2 separate regions of the Homo sapiens genome follow, and region 2 is linked to region 1. The links come from fine-mapping of genetic effects on gene expression. A gene starts in region 1. The other region holds a variant in brackets. All regions are shown on one strand. Distances are from middle to middle.

What was found. PIP is the estimated chance that this variant, and not a neighbour inherited with it, causes the effect.
Region 2: its variant is fine-mapped to the expression of ZNF470 in cerebellum (GTEx, PIP above 0.99).

The regions. Positions count from the first base shown.
Region 1 is chr19:56,565,068-56,570,447 of GRCh38, reverse strand. ZNF470 (zinc finger protein 470) reads right to left here and starts at 2,980. Exons shown (of 6, transcript NM_001001668.4): 1 at 2,410-2,980; 2 at 1,565-1,690; 3 at 77-168. The coding sequence starts at 136. It overlaps ZNF470-DT (ZNF470 divergent transcript), which reads left to right and starts at 2,427. Exons shown (of 2, transcript XM_047439806.1): 1 at 2,427-3,375. The coding sequence starts at 2,427. The coding sequence ends at 3,365. RefSeq lists enhancers at 2,541-2,650, 3,031-3,240, 3,251-3,300.
Region 2 is chr19:56,459,973-56,465,352 of GRCh38, reverse strand. ZNF667 (zinc finger protein 667) reads left to right here. Exons shown (of 7, transcript NM_001321356.2): 4 at 2,924-3,015; 5 at 4,538-4,664. The coding sequence starts at 2,983. Among named protein-coding and RNA genes, the nearest start is that of ZNF667, 15 kb to the left of the region's middle. The variant G/CTG (reference allele first, on the strand shown) is at 2,944.

The sequences.
Region 1 (5,380 bases):
TTCAGAAGAAAACAAGTATTACCAAATCCAGAAAAGCAAAACTATTTTAGTGGGGAGAGGGGGAATACTAACTCACCAGGGACATGGCTTTACAAAGTTTAATTCCTGCCACCTCTACCTCTTCCTGGCTCTTCATTTGGAGAAGAGCTTTACTCTGGGATTGTAGAGCTGGGGAGAAAAAGAAGTAGTGAGAAACCAAGTAGCACTAATAATCAAAGTCTGAAAATGCTTTCTTCCCTTCAGCTTCTTCTGTCCTCACTCACAGTCCTCACTCCAACTCCCCCACCCCACAGTCCTGATGCTCTTTGGGAGACTTGAAATATATAGCTGGGGTTCCCCTCTGCTCTGGGTTTTCAGGATGAGCATAATATCTCTTGACCCCCTCTCCCCATCAGCCACCAATTCATTAACAACAGATTTATTAATACTAGCCTGTGTGTGTGTACATTTTTTTTTTCTAAGACAGGGACTCACTCTGTTGCCCAGGTTGGAGTACAGTGACGTGATCATAGCTCACTGTATCTTCAAACTCTGGGCTCAAGGGATCCTCCTGCTTAGGCCTCCTAAGTAGCTAAGATTACAGGCATGTGCCACCATGCCCAGCTAGTTTTTTTACTTTTGATAGAGATGGGGGTCTCACTATATTGCCCAATTGCTCACTATATTGCTTGAGGCCAGGAGGTGTCAACCTCCTGGAGTTAGGTATCTGGTCAACCTCCTGGCCTCAAGCAATCCTCCTGCCTTGGCTTCCCACAGTGCTGGGATTACAAGCATGAGCCACCATGTCTGTGCTGCATATATTAATACTGTCTTTAAATCTCCAAAATCTTCAAACAGAATCGGGTATATTGTCACCATTTTACACAAGAAAGCTCTGGGAAGTCAAGTCTTTTCCACAAGTCACACAAATTTGTAAATAACCTAGTCACCAACCTAGGTCTGGCTGACTCTATCACAGAAGTTATTTGCTCATATACCAGAAAATAACAGAAAATAAGTCCTCTGTGCAGTTGGCCAGGATTTGTGAACATTCTATAAGACAAATTCCATGGAGAATTCCATCTTTTCCAGAGAGAGGCATTCCTTTCGTTACAACAGAGTCCATGTGACTTGCAGACAACCAAATGAAAAAATCCTCATGAGGCCTAGGATCTCATTTTGTTTTGTGACAAACTACAGTGTTGAAGCAGTCCCTTGACTCCACTGAGCCATGTTTCCTTAATTAGGAAGGAAGAGGATAAAGTATCTGAATTAATTCTAGTTTCTTTCATCTAAATTCCACTGCCTTCTCAAAGGATTATCATAATGATGATAAAAATGAACACATTACATGGCAGGGACTATACCAAGTGCTTTACATGTATGAGGTCATTTAATCCTTATGACAGTACTGTGAGGTATATAATATTACCATCTCCATTTTACCTAAGAACTTAGAGTCATAAACTTTTTAAGAAAAAAACCCCAAACCTGCTCAGTGGAGGTTCTGGCATATGAACTATTTAGTTATTTAACCCTTTCAGAGTCAGTTTCTTTAATTGTCAAAAGTGGCTAAGAAACCTACCTGAGGCAGTAGTTGAGGAAACTACATGACAGCCAGTGACTCTGGAGTCAGCCTGTTCTGGATCTGAATCCCGGTTCTTCCACTTGCTAGTGATTACTTATCCTCTCTATGCTTCTGTGTCTTCATCTGTAAAAAAGAGGTAAGTAGTTCCTACTTCATAATGTTGTGAAGTTTGGTGCTGATACTCCCAAAAGGTCTTAGAACTGTGTCTGGCACATAATAAACACTCATTAAACATTAGCTATTACTATAGCATGCAGGAAACTAAACAAGCACAGAACAATATGGCTAAAAATAGCCCTTCCTCCCCCTTTCTCTTTATTGGAGTGGGAGGCCAGAGGGGAGGGAGAGAAGCCCAAGGAATGGGGATATCTTCCGTTATTGACTAGAACGTGATTAAGCCATAGAAAGGCTGGAATGCCTCGGCATTTCTGGGTGAAGCTGTGAATCTCGCCTTCTTCCCAAATCCTACAGTGATAGATGGGACAAGGCTCTGACGGGTAAAAATCTAAATGCTGAGCTATTCCTTCAACAGCAGCAGAGTACCCAGAAGTAATGCTATAATGGGTAATATTACGGGTAGTGTTCTCTCCCATGGGCCCTTAGTGATATACCAAGGACCTGAGTCAGGTTATCTGGTTAGGTGTCTCTGGCCAAGTCAAGGTCCCTCCCTAACTAAACCCAGCTCCACTCTGACCCAAGGTGACCCTCCAAATCTTTCGACTTCCAGGTCCACTAGCCTTAGAAACGGGGGACATCCTCCTCCAGCACCTGAACCCCGAAAGACAGCACCCAAAACCTCAATGTCCACTCCGGCAGCCACATCCGTCATCTGTCACTCTTACCTGTGTACTCAGTCCCCATGGTCTTCGCTCCTCGCCGTCCTGTGGACATGGAGCCCTGTCCTGGGCTCTGCCCCTTCCAGATAGGGCTGACAGGAAATGCTTCAGCCGAGGCTGCCCCGCCCGGGCAACTTCCCCGGGCTCTAGGACTTTGCCCACACTGGGCTCTACGCAGTCGATACAGGGGAGAACGGGGTAAGCCTCCTCCGGCCGGGTTTCCTGCTCTTGGCCACTTAAAGTGCTTCACTCATTCCAACACACACCGCCTTCCGCACGCCGCCGGGCCATGCACGCAGGCGCAGATTCGCGGCCACGCACCGGACAGTCACACACCGGGCCGCCATCCCCGCGCGCGCTCGCCCCTCCTCAGCACAGCACCGCACGCTCACCACGTATGGGCACTCACAGCCACCAGGCCACACGCGCACGCTCACGCCCGCCGCCCACACAGGAACCAGGACACCGCCCCCGCCGCGCCCCAGTCCAGCCTCGGCCGCTGCCCCGCCCAGACCTCCCTTCTCCTCAGCAACCGGCGGGACGTGCACTCGCCCGGCTTTGGGTCCTTTCCGGAAGTGGGCGTGTCCTCCGCTGCAATAGCCCCTGGGAAGTGTAGTCCGGAACGGAGGCGGCGTTCAGAAATAGGGCGCTGGCTTTGCCAGGAGCGGCTCCTCTCCAAGCCTGGCGGTCACTGCCCTGTGTCCCCTTTTGGGCCTCTCCTGGTCCTCCTGGTTGGATTAGGAGGCCTCTCAGCCCGGAGTCTGGGTCGCCGAAGTACAGGCCCCTTCACTGAAGCGACCCACGGCGCAGGGGTTTCTGGAAGCCATCGCCAGGCTCCGAGTGTTCAGATGCAGCTGCCAGGCTCAGGACGCAGAGAACTGGCTTCCAGCTCGCAGGAGCGCCTGTCCGTGGTGGGTAGGGTCGCAGGCGTGGGGTGTGCAGGAGCAGTGGGACAGCACTGAAACGCAGTCGGTAAGGCGTAGCGGCTACCCTCTGGAGAGGAAAACCATGACAGGGCGGGGCTTGGGGCGCGGGCGGGGCCTACGCGATAGAAAAGTGAGGAGATTGGGATTTGTCTGCTTTGCACACTTGTGACTTTCTGATGGTGCGCGTGTGGAACCTGTTTTATTTCATGCCTACTAGTTACTGCTCTCTGATATACGGTACGCCCCTCACCTCCCCCCACCCCATTTTATCTCTCCCTGCTGGAAGGAGGGTTCCAAGAAGGCACACAGCTTCCGTCCTGTTCAGGGTTATATTCTCAGTGACTAAAACAGCACATAGTAGGTGCTTAGTTTTTTATTTTTATTTTATTTTTTAGGAAATCACGAAATCTAGCATTGCCAGTCTCACCATGACACAACATGTTATAGGCTGAATATGTCCTCCCAAAATTACTATGGTGAAACCCTAACCCCTAGTGTGATGACGTTAGGAGGTGGGACTTTGGGGAGGTAACTGGTTTTAGATTAGGTCATAAGGGTGATACCCTTATGATGGGGTCAGTGCACTTATTAAAAAAGAGGAAGGAGGGGTCTCCATGTTTACACAACCACCAAGCAAAGGCCATGTGAGGACACAGCAGGATGTAACCCATTTGCAAGCCAACGGGGCCCTCACCAAGAACTGAATGTGCCAGCACTTTAACTTCCCAGCCTCCAGAATTGTGAAAAATAAAGTCTCTTAGTCAAGTCACTTAGTCTATGATATTTTGTTATAGCAGCCCCAGCTGACCAAGATACAGCATCATAGATACTGGCTCACCAGAAACTAACTCACCCTCCCAGTCACACTCAATCACCCAAGGCCACACAGTGACATCTAGACTGGACTCTCCTGGATCCAATTTATGTCAGACATCATAAACAACATAATAAAGCCAAGTCTAGCTGTGAAGATACTTTAACTATGAAACAGCAAATATCATCTTAGAGCTTGTAACGTTTGTGGTTATTTGAGTTGGATGAAAATGATAATATTCTCATTTTAGCTCTGGCATATAAAGAGCTCGGAAGCCTTCATTCCCATCTTCACAACAACAAAATCATTCAACAAACTGAAAATCAACTTTTCTTAGATCCATCAGAGAACTGAAGATAGAAAGGTAACTGACACCCCAAAATCCCGAGAAAGAAAAATACATAAAATTACAGCCAAGATTAGCTTACTTGAAGCAGAAGCCACTGGAGTTATAAACTGGTAAAAACTTTTATTTTTTATAATTTTGATGAATTGCTGGAGGCTTAGTGTGGGCTAACTTGTGAGTTAAAAACTCCTAGGGGCCCAATCTTAGATGGGCCCCCACACTTTCGTGAATTTTACCTCCAGAAACCCTATCAAATTCTCTCAGTGAAGAATGGGGAAAAATCTCAGGTTTTTGGGCAAGGGGAGGAGAAAAGTAAGCACCACATTTTCCATAATAAACACCTGCACTCCAAGAAAAACTACTTACTAGAGTCTTGTTGGACCTTGGGGAGAGGCAATTGGCCAGCTCCAGTCCCTCTATAGCCTGTCTGTCTCAGTAAGGCAGGATTTTTGAAAGGCTAAGAAGTGCTTCTGAAGATCACAGTCCAAGGCCTCAAGCCCACTAGAAAAATAGTATTTAATAATAAGATTATAGAATGCTTCCCTCCCCACTGTACCTCACTGCCACACTAATGGGGCTCTGGTCAATAACAGTAGATTACAACAGAGAAAACTGCAAGGCACAGACTCTATTTAAGAAGGAGTTCTTAGGGAAGCCCACAGAAGGAGAAGCATCTTGGAAAAAGTAGACAACATGCAAGAACAGATGGGTAATGTAAGCAGAGAGATGCAAACTGTAAGAAGGAATCAAAAGGAAATCCTAGCAATTGAAAACCATTGTAACAGACATGAAGATTACCTTTAGTGAGCCCCTCAGACTAAGACACTCTGAGAAATGAATGGGTGAGCTTGAAGATATGTTAATAGAAATTTCCCAAACTGAAATACAAAG
Region 2 (5,380 bases), 110 kb after region 1:
AAACATATCCATTACCTAACTCTGAACTCAAGCCTGATGGCCTTGGATTTATCTTCTTCTACCTCCACCCCTACGGGGACGAAACAAACATCTGTAGAGGGAACATCCATTATTTCCATTTTCCAGGCTGTGTCCTGCTGTACTTTTTTCATTACAAAGTCACAAAAAGCTTTTGGGGATATTTCTGCTGTTGTTGGCAGCAGGGTATGACGATGGCATTCTTTGGAGGCGTGTGCTGGAACATTTAGGGATGAACTGTCATTCTACAACTTTCAGACAACTGCCTTTTTATAAAAAAGGGTAGGAAAAATGTTAACATTTGGTGAAGAGTAATTAGGCATTCATTGTATCATTTTCTCAAGATGTCAAGCTTTCCACAGTAAGGGAAGTGAAAAGTATGTCCCCATTTCTGTCCTCTCCAAAGACAAATGTGGAGGGCCAGGGAATGGCTGCAGCAGAACTGTGTCTCTGGGATGGGGTTTCAGCACACTGAGGATCTGGTTGAGTTAGTCAACAAGTGTTTATTGAGCACCTGCTCTATGCTAGGTAGGTTCTCAGCCCTGGGAGTAGAGCGGTGAACAAAACAAAGTCTCTGCTTTCCAGCCTAGATCATTGTGTGTGTTTAGGGAGGGGGGAGGTACTACCCACATAAACACCCACATAAAGAAGCTGTTTTCAGAAAGCGGTAAGTGCTATGTGGAAAATGGGGCAATACAATAAGAGAGCATGTGGCAGCACTGCCCCACAGAAACATAATGTGAGGCTGATAATTTTACATTTTCCAGAGGCTACATTGAAAAGGGTAAAAAGCAACACATTTATCATTAAAGTTAATTTTGTTTTGTTTTGCTTTGTTTTTGAGACAGGGTCTCACTCTGCTACCCAGGCTGGACTGCAGTGGCATGATCTTGGCCCACCTCAACCTCTGCCTCCCAGGCTCAAGCAATCCTCCCATCTCAGCCTCCCAAGTAGCTAGGACTACAGGCACACACCACCACACTCAGCTAATTTTTTAATGTTTTATAGAGACAGGGTCTCACTACATTGCTCAGGTTGCTCTCAAACTCTTAGGCTCAGGTGATCCTCCTGCATCAGCCTCAAAGCATTGGGCTGGCCCATTAAAGTTAATTTTAATAACATTTAACTGACTATATCAAAATATTAACATTTCAACATGTAGCCAATATAAACAGTTATCAATGAAATAGTTATTTTTTCATACTGATAGTTTACATTTTTTCATACTGAGTCTTTGAAATCTGATACAAATTTTATACACACGGTCCATCTAGACCCTTAATTTTCAGTGGAGATACCTGATCTGTACTTAATTTCCTAAAACCTTTGGAAAAGCAGAGTCACATACCCAAGTTGTTCCAGACATACTTTAAAGTTTTACGGTAACCAAATTGAGTATCAGTTTTTCATTTTAAATTTACAGTAAATTTTAATAATTTTAGCAATAATTTTAAATTTTATTTTATTATTGTTTTAATAGTGAATAGATTGGAGTGAAAATGAGTTCCGGGCTGGGCACAGTTGCTCATGTTTGTAATCCCAGCACTTTGGAAGGCCTAGGCGGGCTGATTGCTTGAGCCCAGGAGTTTGAGACCAGCCTGGGCAACATGGCAAAACTCTGTCTCTGAAAAATACAAAAATTAGCTGAGTGTGGTGGCAGGTGCCTGTGGTCCCAGCTACTTGGAAGGCTGAGGTGGGAGGATCGCTTGAGCCGGGGAGGTTGAGGTTGCAGTGAGCCAAGATCACACCACTGCATTCCCGCCTGGGCAACAGAGCAAGACCCTGTCTCAAAAGAAAAAAAAAGGGAAGAAAATGAGTTCCTCAGTTCCACTAGTTTTATTTCCCGTGCTCAGTTTTCATATGTGGCTAGTGGCATTCACATTGGACAGCATAGGTATAGACTGATACAGGGCAGAGATTCTTTGAGATGGGTGGATAGAGGGGCCCTCTTGAGGAGGCGATCTGACCACATCTTCCTTCCTCCACTCCACCCACCCTAGTCATGCCACCAACATCTTCCCCGGATTTCTGCAAAGCTACCTAGTGAGTCCTGTCCTCACTCCTGCTCCCTCTTCTGACACACAGTTAACCCACCATATAGACATGCCACAAATTTTTGTTAAATGTTGTCTGATGGTGTCACTCCCCTTCTCAGCTCCCCCTCCTCCCCCAGTGATGTCACACTTGAGATCAAATCCCAGCTGCTCAGCACCCCTTTCATGATCCGGCCCTGCCTGCCTTAGCCCACCCTCCCCGCTGCACTCACTCTGCCTCAGTACACAGACCTTGCTCTCCTCACACCTAGCCTGCGCCCACCCATGACGCTGACACCTGCTGTGCCTCTACCTGGAATGCTCTTCCCCTAGCACCCACATGGCTCATGCTCTCATATTTAGACCTCAGCTCAATGTGACCTCCTCAGAGACACCTTCCCTGACCATTCCACGACTCTAACCCCTGCCCTGGCCTGTTTATTCTTCATAGCAATGACCATGTCCATCATTGTGCTTTATATGGACTTTCTTTCCCTACTGGAATGTAAGGTGCTTGGGAGCCGGCACTCTTCCACTTTAACTCACTGCTCTCCCCCCAGTACCTGGGACAGCTGGACACCCAGTAGGTGCTCAGTAAATACTTGTCAGATGGATGGCCAGAGGTCTGTGCAGTCCTTATTTGCCTCATGACCAAGAACCTGCTATGATCTTAGGCACAAAAAGGGTTGGCCGTGCCCTTCCCTGACCGTGAGCAGGTGAGGGGGGACAGGAATGCGCCAGGTGTTCTGACATCTGTGTGTGTGTGTGCACGTGCATATGTGTGCATGTGTGTCTGTGTGTGTGTGTGTCTCCAGGTTAGGTAGGGGCCTGTGGACTCTGGCACTGCCTCATGACCTGTCTTCTCCCCACAGCCCTGCCTTACCAGCTCTCT[G/CTG]CCCATCTCTCAGTGTGGACCCTAAAGGGGGAGGAAAGGATGCCTTCTGCACGGGGGAAATCCAAATCCAAGGTAAGTGGCAATTCCTCTTCCTTCCGGAACACCCCATCGTGTCTTGTGAGATGTGGACCATTTGCTTTCCTTCCATGGAGACTTGTTGCCTGTTGGAGATCCATCCAACACCTAGTCTTTGGTTTTCTCCCGTTGCCATGAGGGATGAGAACCTGAGAAGGGCCCAGCAGCCAGGAAACTGCTCAGCGAGCCTCTCTCCATTCCCAGTGTGCACATGGCCACTGGCCTGTTTGTTTAGCATTCCCAGGGGCTTTGCCAGTGCCAGGAGAAATGCCCTCCCCAAGAGAAATGTCCTCCGTGGAGGAAGATGAGAGCCACTGTGATTTCTCAGCATGGAGATGAATGCCCAGGTGGGGCCTGCAGTAGCAGAGGGGACTTGACATGTGCTCTGGAGTTAGTCTTGTTGTGTGGTTTTGTATCTCCTTGTAAAACCCATATTTACATGGAGGAAATCTCTTTAACTAAGGTCCCAAGACTAAAAGGCACCACATAGCCCTGCTATTCCATTGACTGCACTGGTGCAGGCAGTGAGGTTGTATGCGTAGCCTCCTGTGGTCAGCATGCTCCACGACTGTCAATCATTGAGTGGTTTTTCCAACAGGCATCTCAAATGCAGTTTCCCATAACAAATGTGTTTGCTTTCAGTTGGGTGTATTAGTTGCCCCTTGCTGCTGTAACAGATTAGCTGCAAACTTGGCAGCTCAAAACAGCACGTGTTTATTATCATGCAGTTTTGTGGTTGGCGTCCAGGCACAACATGGTTTAGCTGGGTCATCTGCTTTGGAGTTCACAGGGCTGAAATCAAGGTGTCAGCCGGCTGTGTTCTCATTTGGGGCTCAGGTCCTCTTCCAGACTTGCTGGTTATTGGCCAGATTCAGTTCCTTCCTACACTTTCCACCTGACCCTCATTTTTCATCTTCAAGACAGCAAGAACCAATAACCAACTGGCCAGGTCAAGTCCAAGATAATCTGCCAAGGTCAAGTGATCAGTAACCTTGATTATACCCTCAAAGAACCTTTTGTCATGTGTAACATATTCACATGTTTCTTGGAGAGCAAGTGGTTAGGAGATTAAATCAGGAGCTGTCTGGGCTGAACACTAGCTTCTCCATTTACTAGCTGTGAGACCTGCAGTAAGTTTTCTCATCTCTCTGGGCCTCAGTTTCCTCATCTGTAACATACTGTGATTCCGCTGACAGTGCCTCTATCACTGATTCACATGAGCACTAAGTGAGCCAGTACAGTCAGGTGCTTAGAAGAATGCTTTGACTTTGTAAATGCCTGGTAGATCCAGGTTGCCACGTGTTCTTAATGCAACATAATTTTAATAACAGCTATGTCTTATATTGTATTTTATTTAACTTATTTAATACACCTGCCCCTTTTGGCCTCAGAACCCTGAATGCTTCCTGAATGATTCTTGGTACCTTGTGTCTCCCATGTTTAAGATGTGTGCACCATTTCCTCCAGCCATGTGGAAGCACAAGTCCATGGTGAATAGACATTTGATTTTTCATTTCAGGCACCTATAACATTTGGGGACTTAGCCATCTACTTCTCCCAGGAGGAGTGGGAATGGCTGAGCCCCATTCAGAAGGATTTGTATGAAGATGTCATGTTGGAGAATTACCGGAACCTGGTCTCGCTTGGTAAGGCTCTTCGTCCCCCACAATCCAGAACCAGCCTATTGAGGGACATGCATCACTCTGGGTCTAGTCAGGAAAATGGAAGCCACTGCAGTTTCTTTTTTAAAAGAGCTTTATTGAGATATAATTCACATACTATACAATTCACCCATAAAAAGTACACAATTAAATGGTTTTTATAATAGTGTATTCAGAGTTATGCATCCATCACCACAATCAATTATATTTTCATTATTTCCACCCAAAAACCCAGTACCCATAAGCAGTCACTCTTCGTCTCCCCTGGCCACTCATCCCCCCAGGTTCAGCAACTACTAGTCCACTTTCTATCTCTCTGGTTGTGCCTGCTCTGGGCCTTTCATACATATGAAATCATAAATATGTGGCTTCTTTGATTTCTAATGTTTTTGAGGTTCATCATGTTGTAGCATGTGCCAATACCTCATTTCTTTTCATTGCCAAAGAATATGTATGGTATGGATAGACCACATTTTGTTTATCCATTCATCAGTTAATAGATGGGCATTTGGGTTGTTTTCACTCTTGTTATTTTGATATGCTGCTATGAACATATACAAATTTTTTGTGTGGATGTATGTTTTCATTTCTCTGGGGCATATACCTAGGGGTAGAATTGCTGGGTCTTATGGAAACTCTGTAGGTAACTCTTGAATTCTTTTGGTATAAATTTTTTTTTTTTTGATACAGAGTCTTGCTCT